Linked DNA regions of Homo sapiens. Each later gene encodes a partner of the first gene's protein in a complex. Each region holds a gene or a part of one and is shown on either strand. Other genes may lie near its edges. A codon is read from its position in the direction of its gene.

Region 1 (6,418 bases):
AAAACTTCAATAAGATAAATTTTAAAACCACTTGGAAGGCCATCTCTATAAAAATGATTTTCCCAGGACAGTAACCAGATGTAACCTAACCTAACACCATCTTAACCGGCAGAGGTTCAGTGGGCTAGAGCTTTGTGCTCCTCCCCTACACCAAGTTTTTATAATACAAATGCCACAAGAAAAAGAACTTCAGTACTGTTTCCTCTTAGCAGAGGAGAAAACTCAACCTAGTTATGAGACCAACCACACAACACAATGAAAAGCTGCACTAGTTCAGAATATTAGTTAACAGATGATGCTGGTGTGAATAACTCATATTTTTTTCTAGAGCCCTTATAAATAAAATCCCCCAGTTAGTGTTTCCATTATCAGCTAGAGGGTTAGTTAACATGTGGTAGAATGAGGATTTATGCAAGGTATAAATGCACATAGCATTTTACTACTATGAGAACAAGTGCAGTCAGAAGAAAACCAACTGGACTCTAAATTACACACACCTTAATGACAAGACTCCCCACCACTTGTGAATGTAAAACATTTAATTTGAAAATGTTGACACTACAATATATAAAATAGCTATTATAAATGCACATATTGTATTCTATAGCTGCCAGGTTTAATTTTTTTTTTTTAAAGGAAACTATAAGTTACACTGTGGTTAAGGTTTGTATCTTCACCCTTGAAAAAGCCTACATTCTATCACAGTGATGTATGGTCAGACTTAACAGCCCCAATTGTTAAACACTTGGATCAAGTCATAACCAGTTTTATTGCAAAAGGACCCTGTTGTACACATTTATCAATTCTAGTACCTTAATAGCTACCCAACAAGTCATTAACATACAGAAACATGCATCATGAGAAGCAAGAAATATCACGCATCCGTTTTGCATATTAACAACTTGTCACTCCTGAGCAACAGTGCTGACATCACTGAGGTCTGTAAACAGTCACTTTTCGCATTCATCCTGAGTGAAAGATGGAATGACTTAAGTACAAATGCAACATATAAACAATTTCTTACAAAAAAAGTCACCAATTAAACCAAAGTATTTTACAGAATTTACTACAAAATGCCATAAAAACTGCCTTCACTTAAGCTCTCTCTCCCCGTATCCGGCGAGCCAACTGGATGTCTTTGGGCATGATGGTGACTCTCTTAGCGTGGATGGCACACAGGTTAGTATCTTCCAACAGACCCACCAGGTACGCTTCGCTAGCCTCCTGCAGCGCACCGACGGCTGCGCTCTGAAACCTCAGGTCAGTGTTGAAATCCTGCGCGATCTCCCTCACCAACCTCTGGAAGGGCAGCTTCCGGATGAGCAGCTCGGTCGACTTCTGATAACGACGAATCTCTCGAAGCGCCACGGTCCCAGGCCTGTAGCGATGAGGCTTCACCCCGCAGGTAGAGGGGGTGCTTTTCCTGGCAGCTTTCGTGGCCAGCTGTTTGCGGGGGGCTTTCCCACCGGTGGATTTACGAGCAGTCTGCTTGGTTCGGGCCATTTTCTTTCACCCAACGCCGAAGTTTTAGGCCACTTCTCCGACCTCCGCGCTGCTTCCGCTGCCCGAGGAAGAGCCGCAGTCGCGAGCGAAGAACCGACACTGGTCCAACGAACGACCAAACCGCTCTGCGCCCTCCTCTCTTTTATCTGCATCCCTTCCATTCTTCAAAGCCCATTTCGGTGTTTCGTTTTTTGTTGTTGTTTTGTTTTTTGAGACGGAGTCTCGCTTTGTTGCCCAGGCTGGAGTGCAGTGGCGTGATTTCGGTTCACTACAACCTCCACCTCCCAGGTTCGAGCGATTCTCCTGCCTCAGCCTCCAGAGTAGCTGGGATTACAGGCGCCTGCCACCACACCTGGTTAATTTTTGTATTTTTAGTAGAGACGGAGTTTCACCATGTTGGCCAGGCTGGTCTCAAACTCCTGACCTCAGGTGATCCGCCCGCCGCAGCCTCCCAAATTACTGGGATTACAGGTGTGAGCCACTGCACCCGGCCTTTCAAAGCTCATTTCAATCCCACCTCCGTCACAAAGCATTCTTCAGCCACCTTCGTTTTCATCCTTTTTTTCTCTGCACTCTTTCTACCCTTATCATTTACTTGACACTATGCAAATTCTACATGTATATGTATTTCTCATTTATTTTTAGTAATTATCTTTTTTCTTATTATAAAAGTAATACTTGTCCAATTTAAAATACAAAAAATATAGAGAAACAAACTGAAATGTGGAATCACATGTGATAAACACACACACAAGTTGGCTGAATATCTGTTACTCTTGGAATGGGGAAAGAATCATCTAGTCATCTGCCAAGAGGTATAAACCTAAAGTTTAGAAACAGAAATCTGACTTTTAAATGTTACAGTTCTATATGATATTTGTTCCATGGAGTAAATCATAAAGTTTCTCTCTCTCTCTCTCTTTTTTTTTTTTTTTTTTGTTTTTTGGGAGATGGAGTTTCACTGTCCTCACCCAGGCTGGAGTGCAATGGCACGATCTCGTCTCGCTGAAACCTCCACCTCCCAGGTTCAAGCAATTCTCCTGTCTCAGCCTCCCAAGTAGCTGGGATTACAGGTGCCTGCCACCACACCTGGCTAATTTTTGTATTTTTAGTAGAGACGGGGGTTTTACCATTTTCGCCAGGCTGGTCTCGAACTCCTGACGTGAAGTGATCCACCCACTTCAGCCTCCCAAAGTGCTGGGATTACAGGAGTGAGCCACCGTGCCTGGCCACAAAGTATCTCTTTTGTCAGGTGAGTTTTTTAACTTCTAGAAATATGCCACAAAGTGAGCCAGGTGTGGTGGCTCCGCCTGTAATGGTAGCACTGGGAGGCCGAGGCAGGTGGATCACGAGGTCAGGAGTTTGAGACGAGCCTGGCCAACATGGCAAAACCTGTCTCTACTAAAAATACAAAAATTAGCCAAGCGTGGTGGCATACGCCTGTAGTCCCAGCTACTCGGGAGGCTGAGGCAGGAGACTTGCTTGAACCTAGGAGGCAAATGTTGCAATGAGCCCAGATTGCACTACTGCACTCCAGCCAGGGTAACAGAGTGAGACTTTGCCTCCAAAAATAAAAAAATAAAATAACGAAAAGCTATTGGATTGACCATTGATACTTTCCACATCTGAAGAAATCTACCTTATTTTCAAAAGGGCAAAAAAAGGAAGGGTTCCCCGCCCCAGGTTAAAATATAGTAAAATCTCTGAGTAATTCATAACAAATAAAGCACCTTCACACTACCATAAATCTCTACACTGTGTTCCAATCTGTTGAGTGCCTGAATCCAATGACAGCTTTGGACGTCCCCTTCCCCCATAATCTCTGTGCAGACCCTCAACCTCACCCCAGATGCCTTTGGAGTTTTCATTCTTTATTATAAGCAATTGATAGTTTCTCAGACTTTTATATACAGCGTAAAGAAAATCCGTACCCAGCCGGGCGGTGGCTCACGCCTGTAATCCCAGCACTTTGGGAGGCCGAGGCGGGCGGATCACGAGGTCAGGAGATGGAGACCATCCTGGCTAACACGGTGAAACGCCGTCTCTACTAAAAATACAAAAAAAAATAGGTGGGCATGGTAGCAGGCGCCTGTGGTCCCAGCTACTCGGGAGGCTGAGGCAGGAGAATGACGTGAACCCGGGAGGCGGAGCTTGCAGTGAGCGGAGATCGCGCCACTGCACTTCAGCCTGGGCGACTGAGCGAGACTCCTCCAAAAACAAAAACAAAAACAAACAAAAAAAAGAAAATCCGTACCCTTACTACTACACTAGGGGCACAAGGCGGGGAAGAGACTCAAACAATAAGAGCTACTACTGTTTGCTGAACACTTATGTACTGAGTACATTCCATCCTCAGAATCAACCTTAAACTGTTAACATCCTCATTTTACAGATGAGGAAAATGAGGCTCAGAAGAGTTAACTAACCTAAGAGACCCTGAAGTCCTAGCATTTTCCACATGGAACATTTTCCCCTGCAGGTCCCCTTTGCCTGTAGTTGTTCCTTCCACCTCTTCCTGTGCAGGATCTTAGCCCCTAACTGTTCCTCCTGTCCAGGCTGATCAATCCAAAGTGCCCAAACAGTGGCTGCTCATCTGCAACAACAATTCCTCCCTCTTTCAAGAATCTCTTTGACCAACTCTTCCCCAAACTAGCCGCATTCTGGCTGACAGTCCCCTCTCCCACTCCAGCTGAAGTTCGATAAAATTCTTGCCGTTTCTTCCCCCAAGACAGGCCGTTTTTTAGCTCCTTCTCAGGCCTGACATTTTGAATAATGTCTATGCTAATGGAGATTCAGACCCTGATCTCTTCACTGCCGTACTATACTGGTAGTTTTCAAATTTAAAAGTCACTGGTTGAATTGTTTGTTTGCAACTTGAAATGTCCTCTCTCATAGAAGTGATACCATGGTCTGAAGCCAGCCTTTTCAGCTGTTATAATCATCCTGAAGCTGCCTAAGTGGAGGAAATAAGGCAGTAATGAAATAAAAGATTGGATTTAAGTGAATGAAAGAAACAGGTTTTGGTAGAGTGACCATATAATTTACTATCCAACCAGGATACTCCGGGGAGTGAAAAGGTGCTATTAATAATTACACCAGGACAATAGGCAGGCATAAACTGAGGCTGTCCTGGACACATCAGGACATATGTTCACTCTAGGTGTCGGTCACATCAGAATGGCTTTGAGCAATTCACCCTAACCTCCTTGAGCCTCAATTTCTTCTTCTTCTTCTTCTTTTCTTTTTTTTTTTTTTGAGACAGGGTCTCATTCTGTCACTCAGGCTAAAGTGCAATGGTGTGATCTCGGCTCACTGCAGCAGCCCCAAACTCCTGGGCTCAAGCAATCCTCCTGCCTCAGTGTCCCTTGTACCTGGGACTAGAATCGCCCCACCAAGCCCAACTAATTAAAAACAATTTTTTTTTTTTGAGATGGAGTCTCGCTCTGTTGCCCAGGCTGGAGTGTGGTGGTGCAATCTTGGCTCACTGCAAGCTCCGCGTCCCGGGTTCATGCCATTCTCCTACCTCAGCCTCCTGCGTAGCTGGGACTACAGGTGCCCGCCACCATGCCCGGCTAGTTTTCTGTATTTTTAGTAGAGACGGGGTTTCACCATGTTAGCCAGGATGGTCTCGATCTCCTGACCTCGTGATCCACCCGCCTCGGCCTCCCAAAGTGCTGGGATTACAGGTGTGAGCCACCGCGCCCGGCCAAAAACATTTTTTTTTTTTGTAGAACTGGAATCTCACCATGTTGCCCATGCTGGTTTCAAACTCCGATCCTCAAATGATCCCATTGCCTCAGCCTCCCAAAGTGCTGGGATTATAAGTGTGGGCCACCGTCTCCAGCCTGAGCCTCAATTTCTTTATTGTGAAATGGGAGGATTGACATTATGGGGTGATTGTGAGAATGACATAAGTCAGAGTCTATTGTGCAAAATTGAATTTGTAAAGTACCATATAAATATACTTTTTCAGATAATAGTTATGACTAATACTGTTACAGGAAAGGTGTCCCAATCCAGACCCCAAGAGAAGGTTCTGGATCCTGCACAAGAAAGAATTTGGGGCGAGTTCATAAAGTAAAGTGAAAGCAAGTTTATTAGAGAAGTAAAAGAATAAAAGAATGGCTACTCCATAGGCAGAGCAGTGGCACGGGATGTTCAACTGAGTACACGTATAGTTATTTCTTGATTATATGTTAAACAAGGGGTGGATCATTCATGAGTTTTCCAGGAAAAGGGCAGGGATTTACCCTAACTGAGGGTTCCTCCCCTTTTAGACCATATAGGGTAACTTCCTAATGTTGCCATGGCGTTTGTAAACTGTCGTGGTGCTGCTGGGAGTGTCTTTGAGTATGCTAATGCATTATAATTAGCGTATAGTGAGCAGTGAGGACAACTAGAGGTCACTTTCATCACCACCTTGGTTTTGGCAGGTTTTGGCTGCCTTCTTTATGGCATTGTTTTATCAGCAGGGTCTTTATGACCTCTATCTTGTCCTGCTGACCTATCTTGTCCTGTGACTAAGAATGCTTAACCTCCTGGGAATGCAGCCCAGTAGGTGTTAGCCTCATTTTACCCAGACCTTATTCAAGATGGAGTCCCTCTGGTTCCAATGCGTCTGACAATACTGCTGCCCTGAGGTGCCTGGTGCTGATTAGACCGCGATCAAGTGCATATTCGCTGTTGATTGATGTTACTCTCCTCTGTGCCACTCTCCCTATGTGGGCAGTCTCTTCTAACTGCGGGAACAGCAAACCAACCAGTGAGAAAGGCCATCGTCATTTCATTCTTTTGTGTGCCAAAGCACACAAACCACTTAGAGAATATTAGAGAATATGTTCTATTTCCTTCCAGAAAAAAAAAACCCACTTTTTTTTTTTTTTTGAGACAGAGTCTGGGTGGAGTGCAGTGGCGC
Region 2 (7,023 bases), on another chromosome or scaffold:
CTAACAACATTTAAAAGTTTGAGCAATAAAAAACTTTGGAATAATATTACTACATATACAACTCCTAGGGAATTGCTTTGACTGTTTTTCGTGTATTGCTCATAATGAAAAACATTTCATAGAGATTTCTGCTGACCTAGCTTTTTAAAAATCTTTCTTCTATATATTGGGGACATCTGCGTACAAAGAAAATCTTTGCCACCCCACTATCCCCGCCTCCAATAACAACTGCATTATTTTATGTCATAGTTTTTTTTTTTTTTTTTTTTTTTGGGAGATAGGGTCTCGCTCTGTCACCCAGGCTGGAGTGCAGTGGCATGATCACAGCTCACTGTAGCCTCCAACTCCTGGGCTCAAGCAATCCTCCCATCTCAGCCTCCCAAGTAACTGGAGCTACAAGTGCATACCACCGCATCCAGCTATTTTTAATTTTTTGTAGAGATGGGGATCTCACTATGTTGCCCAGGCTGGTCTCTAACGCCTAGACTTAAGCAATCCTCCCACCTTTGCTTCCCAAAGCACTGGGATTACAGGTGTGAGCCAACATACCCAGCCTTATATCATGGCATTTTTGGAGTGAGTTTGGTTTCTAATCACTTCTGTCTCTAAATAGTTTATAACAGGCAACTGATTGATAATTGATGATTAGTGGCAATGACAGTAACAACAGTAGTTAAATCCTTACAACAGCACCTCTTAATAGGACTTAGTCTATGCCAGAAACTGTTCTAAATTCTACACATATATATAAATTCATAACAATCCTAAATTAGGTGTATTATTACGTCCTCTCTACAGGTGAGGCAACCATAGCACAAAAAATTTAAGTAACTTGCCCAAGGTCAAACAGCTAATATGTAGTACAACCTAGACTTGAATCCAGAAGGTCTAGGCTCTATAATCAGTGATGCCCCCAGAATTTGGTTTTCTCATTTGTCAAATGATTTACCATTTCTGAAGTATTAAGCTTTTTTCTTTTTTTAAATGCATAAATGTATACTGAAAGAATATACTCCCCAGAGTTTTTTTTTGTTTTGTTTTGTTTTGTTTTTGAGACAGAGTCTCACTCTGTCGCCCAGGCTGGAGTGCAATGGCACGATTTCAGCTCACTGCAAACTCTGCCACCCAGGTTCAAGCAATTCTCCTGCCTCAGCCTCCCGAGTAGCTGGGATTACAGGCGCCTGCCACCATGACTGGCTAATTTTTGTAGTTTTAGTAGAGACGGGGTTTCACCATCTTGGCCAGGCTGGTCTTGAACTCCTGACCTCGTGACTCACCCTCCTGGCCTCCCAAAGTGCTGGGATTACAGGCGTTAGCCACTGCGCCCGGCCCCCAGAGTATTAATATTTATTATGTATTCTTCCCAATCTTTTTATATGCACAAAATATACACACAGTTTGGGTTTATGTGCTTTTCACAAAATAAAGTTACTGCTAAACTTACTGCTTTACAACTTTTGGAAAGGTTTTTCTCTAGTTCAACAATGTATCATAGACATTCTCCCACTTCAGGGCCCACAGATCTATCTCTATGTCTTGATTTAAAACTGCATGGTAGTCCATTGATGCATATTTTGTTGTTGCCAACTTTTCTCTACTACTAATACTGCTGCCATGAGCATCTTGTATGTATATGTTGTCCATTTGTCATGAGAATATATTCTGATTTCCTTTCTTGTTTTTCCGGGTATAACTGGTCCCCTATCTCCTAAGGGCAACAAAGCATCCTAATCCTTTACTAATTCCCATACGCCATATTCTCAGTGATTACATGTTAAGTCACATCTTTAAATACTTATCCTAATCGATTCCTCAACTCCAGTCCTACTTCCCCGAATGCTTAGCAGGCATCCAATCTATTTGGATGCCTGCTACAACATCTATGCCAGAAACTGCCGAATTCCTCCTTTGCAGTGACTGGAATCTTCCTCCCCATTCGCACTACCAACATTCTATGCTTTGGCTTGATCTCTCACACTACAACTATTGTAACAGCCTATTATCTCTGCCTCCAGGTAACTCCTGTCTCCATATTATTACCACAGTGTTTTTTTAATAATAGGCATCATTAAATCACCAAGTATTTGAGTGCCTACATTCAAATGCATAAATGCTAAACAGAATACAAAGTAATTTAGTAAGGTTCCTATCCTCAAGAATACTGTAAATACCTGCTTTGAAAACTTTCATTTAAAAAATAAAATAACTGGGCATAAAGCAGAGATTGAGACCTGTAGTCCCCTGGTGGTCCGCAGATTAAACCTAGCCTACAAAGTATAGGCGCAAATACCGTTTTAGATTCTAATTAATGAAAAACACTTAAAATCCAAGTTTAAAAATCATAAAAAGGGCTGGGTGCGGTGGCTCATGCCTGTAATCCCATCATTTTGGGAGGCTGAGGCAGGTGGATCACCTGAGGTCAGGAGTTCGAGACCAGCCTGGCCAACATGGTGAAACCCCGTCTCTACTAAAAATACAAAAAAAAAAAAAAAAAAAAAAACTAGCCGGGCATGGTGGTGGGTGCCTGTAATCCTGGCTACTCAGGAGGCTAAGGAAGGAGAATCACTTGTACCCGGGAGGCAGAGGTTGCAGTGAGCCGAGATCACACCATTGCACTCTAGCCTGGGCAACAAGAGTAAAACTCCATCTCAAAAAAGAAAAAAAAAAATCATAAAAATCCAAATTTCCGCCCTCTTGAAAAATCTAGAAACAGCATCTCAAATAGCAACCATCAGCCAGAATTCTGTATCAGTTTCACCTTAAGCAGGGCATAAGGACTCCTAGACTTCCCCAAGGCTGTTATTATTTCCCATTTTCTCCCCAACCCAAGGTCTAAAGTGTCAGTTGTCATTCAGATTCTTAGAAGCAGCCTACTGTTCATTTAAATTGCTTACCTGCTCCCTGTAAACAGTTTATAACTCCTGGACTACAGGATAAAGCCCAAACTCATGAGTCTGGCATTCAAGAACTATCACAGCTTGGCCTCACCACTACACACAGCCTCTGTTCTAGTCACACAGTCAGAAGCCACCCCACCTTTTACACCTCCTTCCCTCAATAATTTCATTCACATTGCTCCCTCACACACTCATTTTCTTGTCATTCTACTTGGCTAAATCCCACCAATCCTTCAAGGTCTAATTCAAATACTACTTCCTCCAAATCTTTGAGCACCCCTCTAGGCCACAATAAATCTTCCAGGGTTGACTGTTCATCCCAGGACATATTTAGCACTTTGTAGCTCTTTAAATAACATGTACCAAATGAAAGATCTAAAAAGTTACATAGAAGTATAGAAAACTTAAGACTTGTTAAACAATTTTACACTTGTAGATCATATGTAGTTACTGCCATCACAAAATTAACAGCAGAAACAAAGTGAAACAATTTTCCTTTTACCTGAGGCTTTTTCTAGAATATTACAAAGTGCAAAAAGAGCTGTGTCATTTGTTTCTCTCAACTTGTGCTCTTAAGTCCTTCAAATTCTGCAAATAAAGGGATCAACACTTCCAATTATAAATCCAAGATTGGTCTATTACTTTTTTTTTTTTCTTTTTGAGACAGAGTCTCACTCTGTCGCCCAGGCTGGTGTGCAATAGCATGATCTCAGCTCACTGCAACCTCTGCCTCCTGGGTTCAAGCGATTCTCCTGCCTCAGCCTCCCGAGTCACTGGGACTATAGGTGCCTGCCACCACGCCCAGCTAATTTTTGTATTTTTGGTAGAGACGGGGTTTCACCATATTGGCCAGGCTGGTCTCCCACTCCTGACCTTGTGATCCGCCCACCTCAGCCTCCCAAAGTGCTGGGATTACAGGTGTGAGCCACCGTGCCCAGCCTTTCTATTACATTTTCACAGATAACCACCAGCATATATCTACAAGCAATAGCTATAATAAAAAAAGAAATAATCTCAGCCGGGCGTGGTGGCTCACGTCTGTAATCCCAGCACTTTGGGAGTGCCGAGGCAGGCAGATCACCTGAGGTCAGGAGTCTGAGACCAGCCTGGCCAACATGGTGAACACCCATCTCTACTAAAAACACAAAAATTAGCTGGGTGTGGTGGCATGCGCCTGTAATCCCAGCTTTTTGGGAGGCTGAGTCAGGCGAATCGCTTGAATCCGGAGGGCGGCAGCCACAGTGAGCCAGGATCACGCCACTGCACTCCAGCCTAGGCAAGAGAGTGAGACTGTCTCAAAAAAAAGAAAAAAAAAAAAAAACAGAAATCATCTCTATTCTACTTCGTAACTTTTGCCACTTATCCTGCCAACAAGTTCTCAAAATAACCACTGTAGCACAAACATGATAAAGAAAATTTTTAAAGAGAAAAGGAAGAGATTAATCAGCTTTCTGAAATTAAAAGATAAAAATGGACCAAAACAATATAGAAAAAAAAAAGTAAAGGCAAACACAAACTCACACGCTGACTGTAAAGTTTATTCCATGGCAGCTAAAAGTTGTTTGGCCCAAACATCTCACAGATTAAAAACTAAATCACAACCTAACGAGGGTATCTAACACGTCCCCACCAGGCAAGAGTGCAGAGAGACCATCTAATGTTCCTATTTATTTAGAGAGTCTTGCTCTGTCACCTGACTAGAGTGTAGTGGTGTGATGTCCGTTCACTGCAGCCTCAACCTCCAAGCCTCACACAATCTTCTCTCAGCTCAGTCTCCAGAGTAGTTGGGACTACAGGTGCCTACCACCACACCCAGCTAATTTTTTTGTAGAGACAAGGCCTCACTTTGTTGCCCAGGCTGGTCTCAAACTCCTTTTAAATGAGGATTAAGTGATCCTCCTGACTCAGTCTCCCAAAAGTGCTGGGATTACATATATCAGCCACCACACCCATCCTTAATGTCCTTTATAACTGGAAACTGACCAATTTTCACCTTGGAAGGTCAATGAAGTTTCACGAAGCCCCTCCATCATAAACTTAAAGTGACTTAAGTTTACAGAGTTGGACAACCACTATCTACCCAGAGAAACCTGACTGTGGTCTGGGAAACTTTGCAGTTTTGCGGAACAGAGGAATGAGATGAAGCAGTGTGGCTTGTCACTTGGCAGATTAACAACAATTCTGGCATTATGGAATTAACTGAAATAGTACGAAAATGTAATAAATCACAAGTGTCAGAATGGGAAAACAAATTGTTGTGATACTTTTATATTTCCATGGAAATCCATGTTTATCAAGTTTACATATTAGTAACCAATATGTAAATTGGTAAGTTTACATATTAGTAACTAATATGTAAATTTATATATTAGTAAACAATATATAAATTTGTATAATAGACTAAAAATAACATCTTCTCAAATATTAGAAATTCCCTGGGCCAGGTGCGGTGTTTCATGTCTGTAATCCCAGCACTTTGGGAGGCCCAGGCAGGCAGATCATGAGGTCAAGAGATTGAGACCATCCTGGCTAACAGGGTGAAACCCCGTCTCTACTAAAAATACAAAAATTAGTCAGGCATGGTAGTACGTGCCTGCAGTCCCAGCTACTCCAGCTACTTGGGAGGCTGAGACAGGAGAATCACTTGAACCTGGGAGGCGGAAGTTGCAGCGAGCCAAGATCGCACCACTGCACTCCAGCCTGGGCGGCAGAGCAAGACTCTGTCAAAAAAAAAAAAAAAGAAAAAAAACAGGTTCTTATTCATGGGAATTTCAGGTCAGGTTAAACAACAACCTCCTAACAGGTAAGAGAGGGTAGCAATCCTGAGTCAACTTTTCAACTGAATTAAAACATTTCAGTGCCTATTGAGTCCCAGAGACCAATAATATCAAAAATTTTATCAGATCTCTTGGACAATAAATTATTAAGAATTGCTGTCATAAAAATTACAAATTTGCATTATCTCAAAAAGCATGAATAATAGTGCTGTCTCTCAACTATAAACTTGTTTTATTAAATGGTATATATTGTAATGCAGTACAGTTTTCTATCACTTATTTCAAATTCACAGCTATGAAAAGGAGAAATTTTGTTGGGGGAAGGGCGTTACAAATACAGAGTAGCAACCTAGCCATTTTTGCTGGTCCTTGTAATGACAATCACTGGTTGTGCCTAATTTTTCTACAACAATAATGCTTAAGGTGGCTCTCTAATAATAGCAATTGCCCTCTGAAAAGAAAGTGGTTCAGGGTATAAAGAGTTTACTCAAAAAAGGCCAAGGATAGTGCTTCAGAAATCCTATACCTACCACCTGCTGCTTCTGTACAACCACCCCCATCCCCCACACCCACACCCATTTCTAACATCAACTTTCATGAACTGGTAAGAAACATAGTAGAGTAGAATGTTTCTTTGGCTTCCCAACTTGGTAATGTGAATTTACAGTGTAAGGATGGAAAAAATAAGAAAAAAGCTTCAGAAAAATTTTTTAACATTAACACAAAAATAATGAGATCTTTAATATGTGCATATTCTGACAGAGGCCTGCCAATGGTTAAGACCTGTGCCTCTGATAAAGATGATGAACTACTCCAAATTATCAAATAATTTGATACTTTTTACAGTTAAGGAAAACTTTCAAATGAATGTAAATTTCACTGTGCCACTTGACATTTGTACAATAGGAAACCTCTATGTATTTACTTTTCCAACTCTAAGATTAATAGCTTCAGTTCAAGTTTCTTGATTTTAGGTAGTAAAATTTTAAGATATTTATAGTTAATGTAAAAGCAGTAACTATATAGCTATGCTTTTTATTCATGACAAAATACACAAAAACAATCTAGCTAACACTATAAGACAAGAAAATGCTTTATTTACCTAATTATTAAAAATTTAAACTTGAGGAAAGTGTAATTGGTGGTGCATGTTTTTTTAAGCCAAAGATAAATACATAAATCCACTTCATTGTCAAAAGGCATCTTCTCAGCGGGGTGCGGTGGCTCACGCCTGTAATCCTGGCACTTTGGGAGGCTGAGGAGAGTGGATTACCTGAGGTCGGGGGTTCAAGACCAGCCTGGCCAACATGGTGAAACCCTGTGTCTACTAAAAATACAAAAAATTAGCT
Region 3 (7,783 bases), on another chromosome or scaffold:
TGATTCGAGACATGGTGTAGGTGAAGCAGCCTCCTCGGCAGCCTGCAGACAGTGAGCTGTGGGGTAGGAGAATAAGAGGGGAGGGAGATGCAGAGAAGGAGCAAGCCAGCGGGTGAAACAGAGGAGCAAGCCAGGAGTGCAGAGAAGCGCAAAGTCAGGGGAAAGCATGCCAGGAGGGGCAAAAGAGAAAGAAATGAGAGACAGACACACAGAGAGAGAAGAGGTAAGGAATACACAGAGGAAGAAGAAAGAGGAGACATGGTGAGCTAGATGTGAGAACAAAATCATAACATGTACAAATTTACAAGTATTTATGGAGTGCACTCTGTACTAGACACAATAGAAAACTACAATAGAAGGGAAAAGATATTGTGAAAACAAGTATCCCAGTGCTTGCTTCTGTCCCAGCGTCCCTCAGGCTTGTCCCTCTGTGCGTCTCCTCCGCCTTGGTCTCCTTCCTGCCCCATACCCAAAGCCCTTCTCTGTCATCATAGATACTTCATCATGGGAACTGCAATAATAAATTCCCTGCCCCCACAATTCTCTGGAGCCCCAGAGTCATGTGATTCCCATCTTTCATCCTTCGAGTTGGAAAATCCCTCTTAGACCAACTACATGCTACAGTAACACTTAGAGGAAAAAATATAAAGCATAAAAGCATGTATTTTACAAAATATATGTTTCTAATACAAATTTAGTTACCATATTGAAGAGGCGTTTGGGAGAGTCAGACATGATATAATGAGGGTTTGTACTTTAATGACAGGGATGTGTTCTGAGAAATGTGTCGTTAGATGGTTTCATCGTTGTATGAACATCATAGAGTGTACTTACACAAACCTAGATGTCATAGCCTACTGCACACCTAGGCCATGTAGTTTAGCCTATTGCTCCTAGGCTACAAATCTGTACAACATATAACTGCACCTAACACTGTGGGCGACTGTAACACAGAAGTAAGTATTTGTGTATCTAAACATAGAAAAGGTACAGTAAAAATATGGTATTATAATCTTGTGGGTCCACCATCTTATATGTGGCCCATCATTGACCTAAACTTCGTTATGCAGTGCACGACTGTAGTTTCAGCAGAAAGCAGCCAGGATGGAATGAAGGCACAATGAAATGGTTTTCGAGGGTACTCTAAATTAAGTATGACCATAAAAATAGAGACAATCAGGCCGGCTGGGATTTGGGTAAGGTGAGTGCACACCTCCTTAAACTTTGCACCCCAGGTGCCTCGCTCACCTCATCCCAGTCCCAGCCTTATCAAACAGTTTGTTTGTTTGAGTATGTCTAGAAAGAGAAAGGAAAGCAAGTGAAGGGAAAAGAGTAATGATTCTGGAAAGAAAGGTGATAAGCCTCAGAGTAAGATCTTCAGGGACTGGCAAGATGAGCTGGGAAAGAAGAGTGAAAGGGAGAAGCATACCCATCCTGAGGGAGTGACCCTGGAGAGATACTTTGGAGACAGACTTAGGGGTAGGAGGTAGGAGGCAGAAAGAAATGGAATTTCATGGACCTAGGAATGTTGAGAGACAACTGAGAGACATTCCATCTGAGACTTAAATTCCTTTTGTACTACCTTCACTCATAACTTGTTCCTATAATAAGATCAGATAAACTTTGAAGATATTGGATGAATATGAACGAAGGAAGAAATGAATGGATAGATGAAACAGAATGGTGACTACATTCACCATATTTTAGTTTAAGTATTTTTGTGTTTTGCGCCTGAAAGGGCCTAGAAATGGAGTTAGGGAAGTGAAGACCCCTATAAAGATTTGGGGCTAGCAAATGGACCCAGCTGCCCACCACCTACCTGCCAAAGGAGAAGAGGCACATGAAGAAGATGGCACTGGCAAAGGCATGGGGGTCAAAATCACCTCCCAGGATGTCAATCACACGACCAGAATAGTGAGGGATTAATGTCTCACCTGAAAGAGGCATGAAAAATAACACAAGAATGTGCTGGTGCCCAGGCCCTTTTACCACCTCCAACTCACAACGTCCTCTCCTGACTCACCCAAAACAGCAAGGACAAGGAAGAAGAAGGCGGCAACGAGGAGAGGCAGGTCCGGCCTGGAGAGCTTCAGCAGCCTCCACATCAAGACTTTGTTGTTCACCTGGTCCTGCTCCTTCTCCTGGGCTCCAGGAGGGCTCAGAACAGCCCACAGTGACCAGCTGAGCCCCGCAGCCCCGTACCCCACCAGCAGCCAGCTCCAAGGGGCTGAAGCGACTCTGGCTGGGGGAGCACGTGAGGCCCCCGCGACCAGGGCTCTCAGGGAGACAGTCAGGGGGGTGGCCAGACAGAGCGGGAGCAGCAGTGTCCCCACAAATCCCAGCAGCCCTCTTAGCTTTAGCAGCCCCCACAGCCCTCCCAGCCGCAGGGTCCCCTCCAGCCATAGTCCTGGCAGCCCTTGAGGAAGCAAAGTCCCCAGAGGGCCCTGAAGCAGCCACAGTAAAGCCGCGTCCACCAGCAGCAGGGAGGTCCAGGGTCTCAGGTCAGGGAGCCGCATGGCTCTGTCAACGGATACGAGATGAGAAATCATGGGGGTGGAGTCCCAATCCTTGTCCCTGCCCTCCTACCCGCCCGGCTCCGCCTAACCCGTCCATCGGCTTCTCATTTTATCCTATTCAACCCTGAGAGCTCTCCTGAGTAACCGGTGCTCATCCGTACACCCCTCCTACGACAGACAGCTTTCGGCCTTCTGGGGAGCTGGAAGCATGACCATCAGGAGCCTCGTGCTTAAAAAAAAAAAAAAAAAATCCCCGGACCCCCACCCCCACCCCCGCCTGCCGCGGCGAGCTAAGTGGTCCGGGCTCCGCTCCCTCCTATCGCCGGGTGCAGAGGGACTGGGAAGCAGGAGCGTGGAGTGGGTAGTCACTTGGGCTGCGTCCCTGTTGGCGCTCCAGGTTCCCCTCCGCACCAACTCACCAGCCGCGGCGGGGAGACCGCAGCTCCGGGGACTTCTGCTTCAGCGCTGAGGTCCGCTCCGTCTCTCCCAACCTCGCTACCGGCTCTGGTCCGCCAGCTACGCTCGGCCAGGGCGGGCGTCAGGGCTCGGGCAGCTTTCGCTTTCGCTTCCCCAGCCAAGGCCTTCATTCTGGGCTGGGCCGCCGGGAGGGGGCGCGCGAGACCCGCAGACAGCGGAACTGGAGCCCGAACTCTGGTTCGCACTGTACAGGCCTGCAATGAGTCTCACTCGCCTTTAGTGGCGGTTACTCTGGGATATAAAACTGCAAAAATGTTTCTTTATCATTAAGTAAAATACAGTTGTCTCAAGGGCAACTTTATCTGTTGTCCTTGCTTTGTAATTGGAGAATGCTTTGTAATTGGAGAATCACTGAATTTTCTCAAAGTTACTACTTCAAGCTCTGAGCCTACTATTAAGAAGTGCCTTCTTTCTGGTCCGGCGCGGTGGCTCACGCCTGTAATCACAGCACTTTGGGAGGCCGAGGCGGGCGGATCGCCTGAGGTCAGGGGTTCGAGACCAGCCTGGCCAACATGGTGAAACCCTGTCTCTACTAAAAATACAAAAATTAGCCAGGGCGTGGTGGCGGACGCCTGTAATCCCAGCTACTCGGGAGGCTGAGGCAGGGGAATCGCTTGAACTCAGGAGGCAGAGGTTTCAGTGAGCCGAGATCGGGTCATTGCACTCCAGCCTGGGCGACAAGAGTGAGACTTCGTCTAAAAAAAAAAAAAGTGCCCTCTTCCATGCAAGCTCCAGTTTTAGGCGAGCGAGCCGGGCTCTCCTAAATAGAAGGTTCCAACCAATCTCACCAGGCCAAAGGGGATTTTCACGTACAGACTTTGAATTTAGTAGGCCCTGAGCGTTCATCTTCATCCGTCCTTCTCAGCCGGAGCACCTTGAGCTGGCGCGTGTTCAGGTGCCTCTGAGTCTGTACTCCAAATTATGTTGGGCGCACCTTCAGCCTATGAGGGAAATGCCCCGTACTGAGCTTTGGTTCTTGTTCTATTTTAACACTGTTTAGAACAGTAATTAGGTTTTTAAATATCCTTCCTGACCCAGAGCCTTCCTATGCAACAGAAAGATTCGTTTATTCCAGAAAGGACTCTTCAGATTGAAACCACCTCCCAAACTAAAAACAAACAAACAAACAAATTCCCCAAAGGAAGGGTCGCTTGGATTCCAGATCACCATTTTGAAATGTTACCTGTGTGACTACCAAGGAGTCACTTAAAGTTTAAAATAGTGGTGGTGGGGAGGAGGGATTTTAAGTAGGGGCTCGCTAAAGTTTTACAACTCTATTCATTCTGGCATTTTAAGAATCTCTCTCTAATGAAAAAAGCTCCATGCTCAAGCTCATGCTCCTACTTTCAAGCATTTGTTTCCTTTATTTTCTGGAAAGTGACATGGTCCATAGTTCCAGCATGATTCCGAAAATCTCATGATGTGTGTCTCTTTCTTCTAACCTGGATCTTTTACATTTTCCCCACACTCCTCACTTAGGGGAGTCCTCCTGATCTCTTCTTCCTCTAAAATTATAGTCCTGCCATCTTGCAATTCAGCATGACACATCATGAAATTAGACCCTTAATGTCTGTCTTTATATTCAATATCCAATATCTCCAAAGTGTTATTTGGGATAAATGGTATGGTGTTTATATGATTACCATATTAAAGTGAAGTGGAAGCTTTTTCATCCTACTCTATAAAGTCAAAAACAGTTATCCTAGGTGCCCTACTCCCTGTTCCTCAAACCATTAACAATGGAACACACAGGAGTCCCCAGGTGCCTCTCTATGGAAAGGACCCTAACCTATGTGAAATTGCAAACAAGTGTCCATGGACAGCAATGAGCAGCCTTCCTGAGGTCTTGGAGAGATGAGTGTGGAAGGAAACCCCAGGAAGAACTATGTGGTGAGGCCACATTTCTTAGATAGGGGTCTGAGCCCCTTCTCCAGAAAAAGCGTCTCTTTACTTTCTGCCCCACCCAACAACCACAGGCCCAACCCCATTCAGCCACAAGACAGAGGTATTTATAACCGTTTTTCTTTATTCTACTTAGTGGGGCACCCAGAAACTTCCCTGGGGGAAATGCTTGTTCAAATAGAGAACACGCAGAAGATGCACTTCACCGGCCTCCTCTGGCTGCTGAGCCCGTACTCTCTCTTTGGCTCAGGCTAGGCCTCTTCTTCTCCTTGGACTTAACGTGGCTTAGGTCCCTGAGTCGGCCAAGACCTCCCAGAGGAGACCTGCCCAGCTGCCACCACCACCATTATTGATTGGCTTCCCGGTACTGGTGCAGCAGGTCACTGACATCTGTACTTTCTACTTTCACCCAACCATCTTCCTTCATGTGGTACACTGTGGACAAATGAGAAAAGAACATGGAGTCACCTTTCACCTCAGCAAGTTCCTGTCACTGATGTTATGTTGAAGGCAGCAACAAGACACATGCGCAAGCTTAAAACCATATGACTGGGCCTTTAATGCCCTTCTTCTGACTCTGAAAATTTCCTCCCTACTACTCTCCCTCCTTTGAGTCTCTCAATCATTTTCTTTTTTTTCTTTTGAGAAGGAGTCTCACTCTGTGGCCCAGACTGGAATGCAGTGGCGCCATCTTGGCTCACTGCAAGCTCCACCTCCCAGGTTCAAGTGATTCTCCTGCCTCAGCCTCCCAAGTAGCTGGGACTACAGGCACCCGTCACCACGTCCGGCTAATTTTTGTAGTTTTAGTAGAGACGGGGTTTCGCCATGTTGGCCAGGCTGGTTTCTCAATCTTAAATCACCCCCCCCACCACCCGCCGACTCCTCCCAGGCATGGTGGTGGGAGCATTGGTCTCTTACTATTGACAACGCCTCCAGAATAGCTGTCTCTGTGAGTGGCATAAGCAATAGCCCTGCGGCCAAGGTCATAGGCCTCTTCAGGGCTAAGATTAGGCCGATAGCCACTGTCCATGACCCCGTAGGCATAAGTGTTCCCACTACCCGTGGAGAACATATTTCCTGAGAGCCGAGTCCCATGTTCATCCACGTAGTAGAGTCCAGGACCCTATAAGATGAAAGATTTCAGGCTGAAATTGGAGAGGAAGATGTTGGTAACATGGGGGTTCAAATATGAGACATAAAAAGTGAACAAAAGAATTAATATTACCACAAGAACATTGGAATTAGGAAACCACTTTGGTAAAGTCATCGAACTTTAGAAATGAAAAAGGAAAAACAAACTTGAAATCAACTGTTTAACAAAAGGGACAAGCTTACAAAACACATGCAATGATTCATATCTGGGCCAATAAATAGTCCATGGATATACTGAAACAGTTCTATAACCAAGCACTCTATATGCCATGCATCTTGTCAGGGAGGGAGTAGGAGTATATGATGGGAAACAGATCTGTCATCCATAGGGAACATGGTGGGGGAACATGAAGAATGGAGAGCACCCACCTTCTTATCCCAGCCACAGATCATACTGCCCATAGAGAGGCCCATGCCCCGGTACTGGCACATCATGTTGGACAGCAGCTTGGAGGCTGCCGACACTGAAATACGTTCTCCATTTCGCAGATAGTACAGCCTGGGTGAGGACAAGGTGGAGTGAGGAAAGAGAGGTTAGCTCTTTCCAACTTGATGGGGCAGGAAATGATTAAAGAGATAAGCATTGGAAAGGAATTATTTTGTAGGATCTAAAGATCAGAGAAAGATTTGGAATTTAAAGTATCTGAAACATACAAAGGCAGCCTAGTAAATGATACTGTCCCGCCAGGGTGGATGTGTCAGTGCTAAATACCTGACGTACTATCTGGCTTATGAGTGGAGCACAGGCTGAGATTTGGGAGAAGGGTCTTATCACCAAAAAGCTGTTTTGTGAAATATACTATTAGCACTAAGATGGACCACATAGGACAAGAGTAAGGAGCAATGATCTGAGAGATCCAGGGATTAACCACTAGGCTAAGAAAGGAAGATGAGAGGCCTCGCTTACCTGCATTCCTTGGCCAGCAGGCGCTCCCAGTACTGACAGTCTGCTGCACAGCCAGACATGGTGCCAAGCAGGTAAGGGTTAATCTCAATCACCTTGTTCACCCGTAAGGCACCTGGAAGAAGATGGAGCTTTGGGAGAGAAGGGATGACCCCATAGATCCCCCAGTGTGTCCTAAATCAATATCCACTTCCACTTTGTTGCAGAGTTGGCCTCCTGTGGAAAGGAGAGCCCAGCTCCCCAGATTCTGCCTGCTGGAGCGTATACACTCACTAATGTAGGACCCAGCTGAGGCCCGAGAATCCACTGCTGCAATCACTCCATGCTGGAACTTGAAGGCGAGCGTGGTGGTGCCATGGGCCATCTCAATCTGAACGTTCCTTTCTCCGTCCCCACCCAGGGACTGGAAGAATTCTGTGGGCTGATAAGAGAAAAGAGGTTGAGAAAGGCAATGAAAAATTCTGTAGTAAGAGGCTCCAGGAAAAGGTTTTAGGGAGTATGAGGGTGAGGAGATATGCAGAAATGATCTAACCATCAATAAATGAAACAGTTAATAACCAATCTCTAGAAGGAAATGGCTTGGGAGAAGGAAAAGAAGAGGCATGCCAGTATCAACCTTTTCCATTTTCCAGCACAACAGAAATGAAAGCAAGCACATGTTACCATTACTAAAAAATTTTGAGAGTGACTTAAAGGGTTTCTTCCATGCATAAAGCATTCAACCCTCACAAAACACGTTTAGTAACAGTATCCTCACTTTACAGAAGAGGGGCTTGGGACCTAGACTAAGTGACTTGTTCTAAGTCGCGCAACAGTGAGTTGCTGAGAGGAG

Evidence for each region.
Region 2: the proteins of H3-5 (region 1) and KMT2C are in contact, whole or in part, in a crystal structure (PDB 7W6L), measured with the Homo sapiens proteins. Residues at the interface, in NP_001013721.2 of Homo sapiens: Ala2 (codon at 1,500), Arg3 (codon at 1,497), Thr4 (codon at 1,494), Lys5 (codon at 1,491), Gln6 (codon at 1,488), Thr7 (codon at 1,485), Ala8 (codon at 1,482); in NP_733751.2 of Homo sapiens: Tyr4800, Ala4810, Asn4811, Glu4814, Val4824, Tyr4825, Met4826, Phe4827, Arg4828, Val4834, Arg4845, Ala4857, Glu4858, Val4859, Ile4868, Tyr4884, Asp4885, Tyr4886, Lys4887, Phe4888, Asp4889, Glu4891, Ile4897.
Region 3: the proteins of H3-5 (region 1) and TAP2 are in contact, whole or in part, in a cryo-EM structure (PDB 8T4F), measured with the Homo sapiens proteins. Residues at the interface, in NP_001013721.2 of Homo sapiens: Arg52 (codon at 1,350), Arg53 (codon at 1,347), Thr58 (codon at 1,332), Glu59 (codon at 1,329), Leu60 (codon at 1,326); in NP_001276972.1 of Homo sapiens: Arg210 (codon at 37), Gly211 (codon at 34), Phe214 (codon at 25), Thr215, Met218, Pro265, Leu266, Asn269, Val270, Arg273, Arg373, Leu377, Arg381.

Annotation. Positions count from the first base shown.
Region 1 is NC_000012.12:31,790,664-31,797,081, forward strand, and holds H3-5 (histone H3.3C), read right to left. Parts: upstream 1,636-6,418; 5' UTR 1,504-1,635; coding exon 1,096-1,503; 3' UTR 522-1,095; downstream 1-521. UniProt on the Homo sapiens protein: Core component of nucleosome. Nucleosomes wrap and compact DNA into chromatin, limiting DNA accessibility to the cellular machineries which require DNA as a template.
Region 2 is NC_000007.14:152,425,982-152,433,004, forward strand, and holds part of KMT2C (histone-lysine N-methyltransferase 2C), read right to left. Parts: intron 1-7,023. UniProt on the Homo sapiens protein: Histone methyltransferase that catalyzes methyl group transfer from S-adenosyl-L-methionine to the epsilon-amino group of 'Lys-4' of histone H3 (H3K4).
Region 3 is NC_000006.12:32,835,718-32,843,500, forward strand, and holds the start of TAP2 (antigen peptide transporter 2), read right to left. Parts: upstream 3,023-7,783; 5' UTR 2,936-3,022; intron 2,521-2,935; 5' UTR 2,517-2,520; coding exon 2,024-2,516; intron 1,935-2,023; coding exon 1,820-1,934; intron 57-1,819; coding exon 1-56. Other genes in the region: PSMB8 (proteasome subunit beta type-8 isoform E2 precursor), read right to left, coding at 5,242-5,330, 5,814-6,018, 6,417-6,546, 6,955-7,066, 7,225-7,372. UniProt on the Homo sapiens protein: ABC transporter associated with antigen processing. In complex with TAP1 mediates unidirectional translocation of peptide antigens from cytosol to endoplasmic reticulum (ER) for loading onto MHC class I (MHCI) molecules.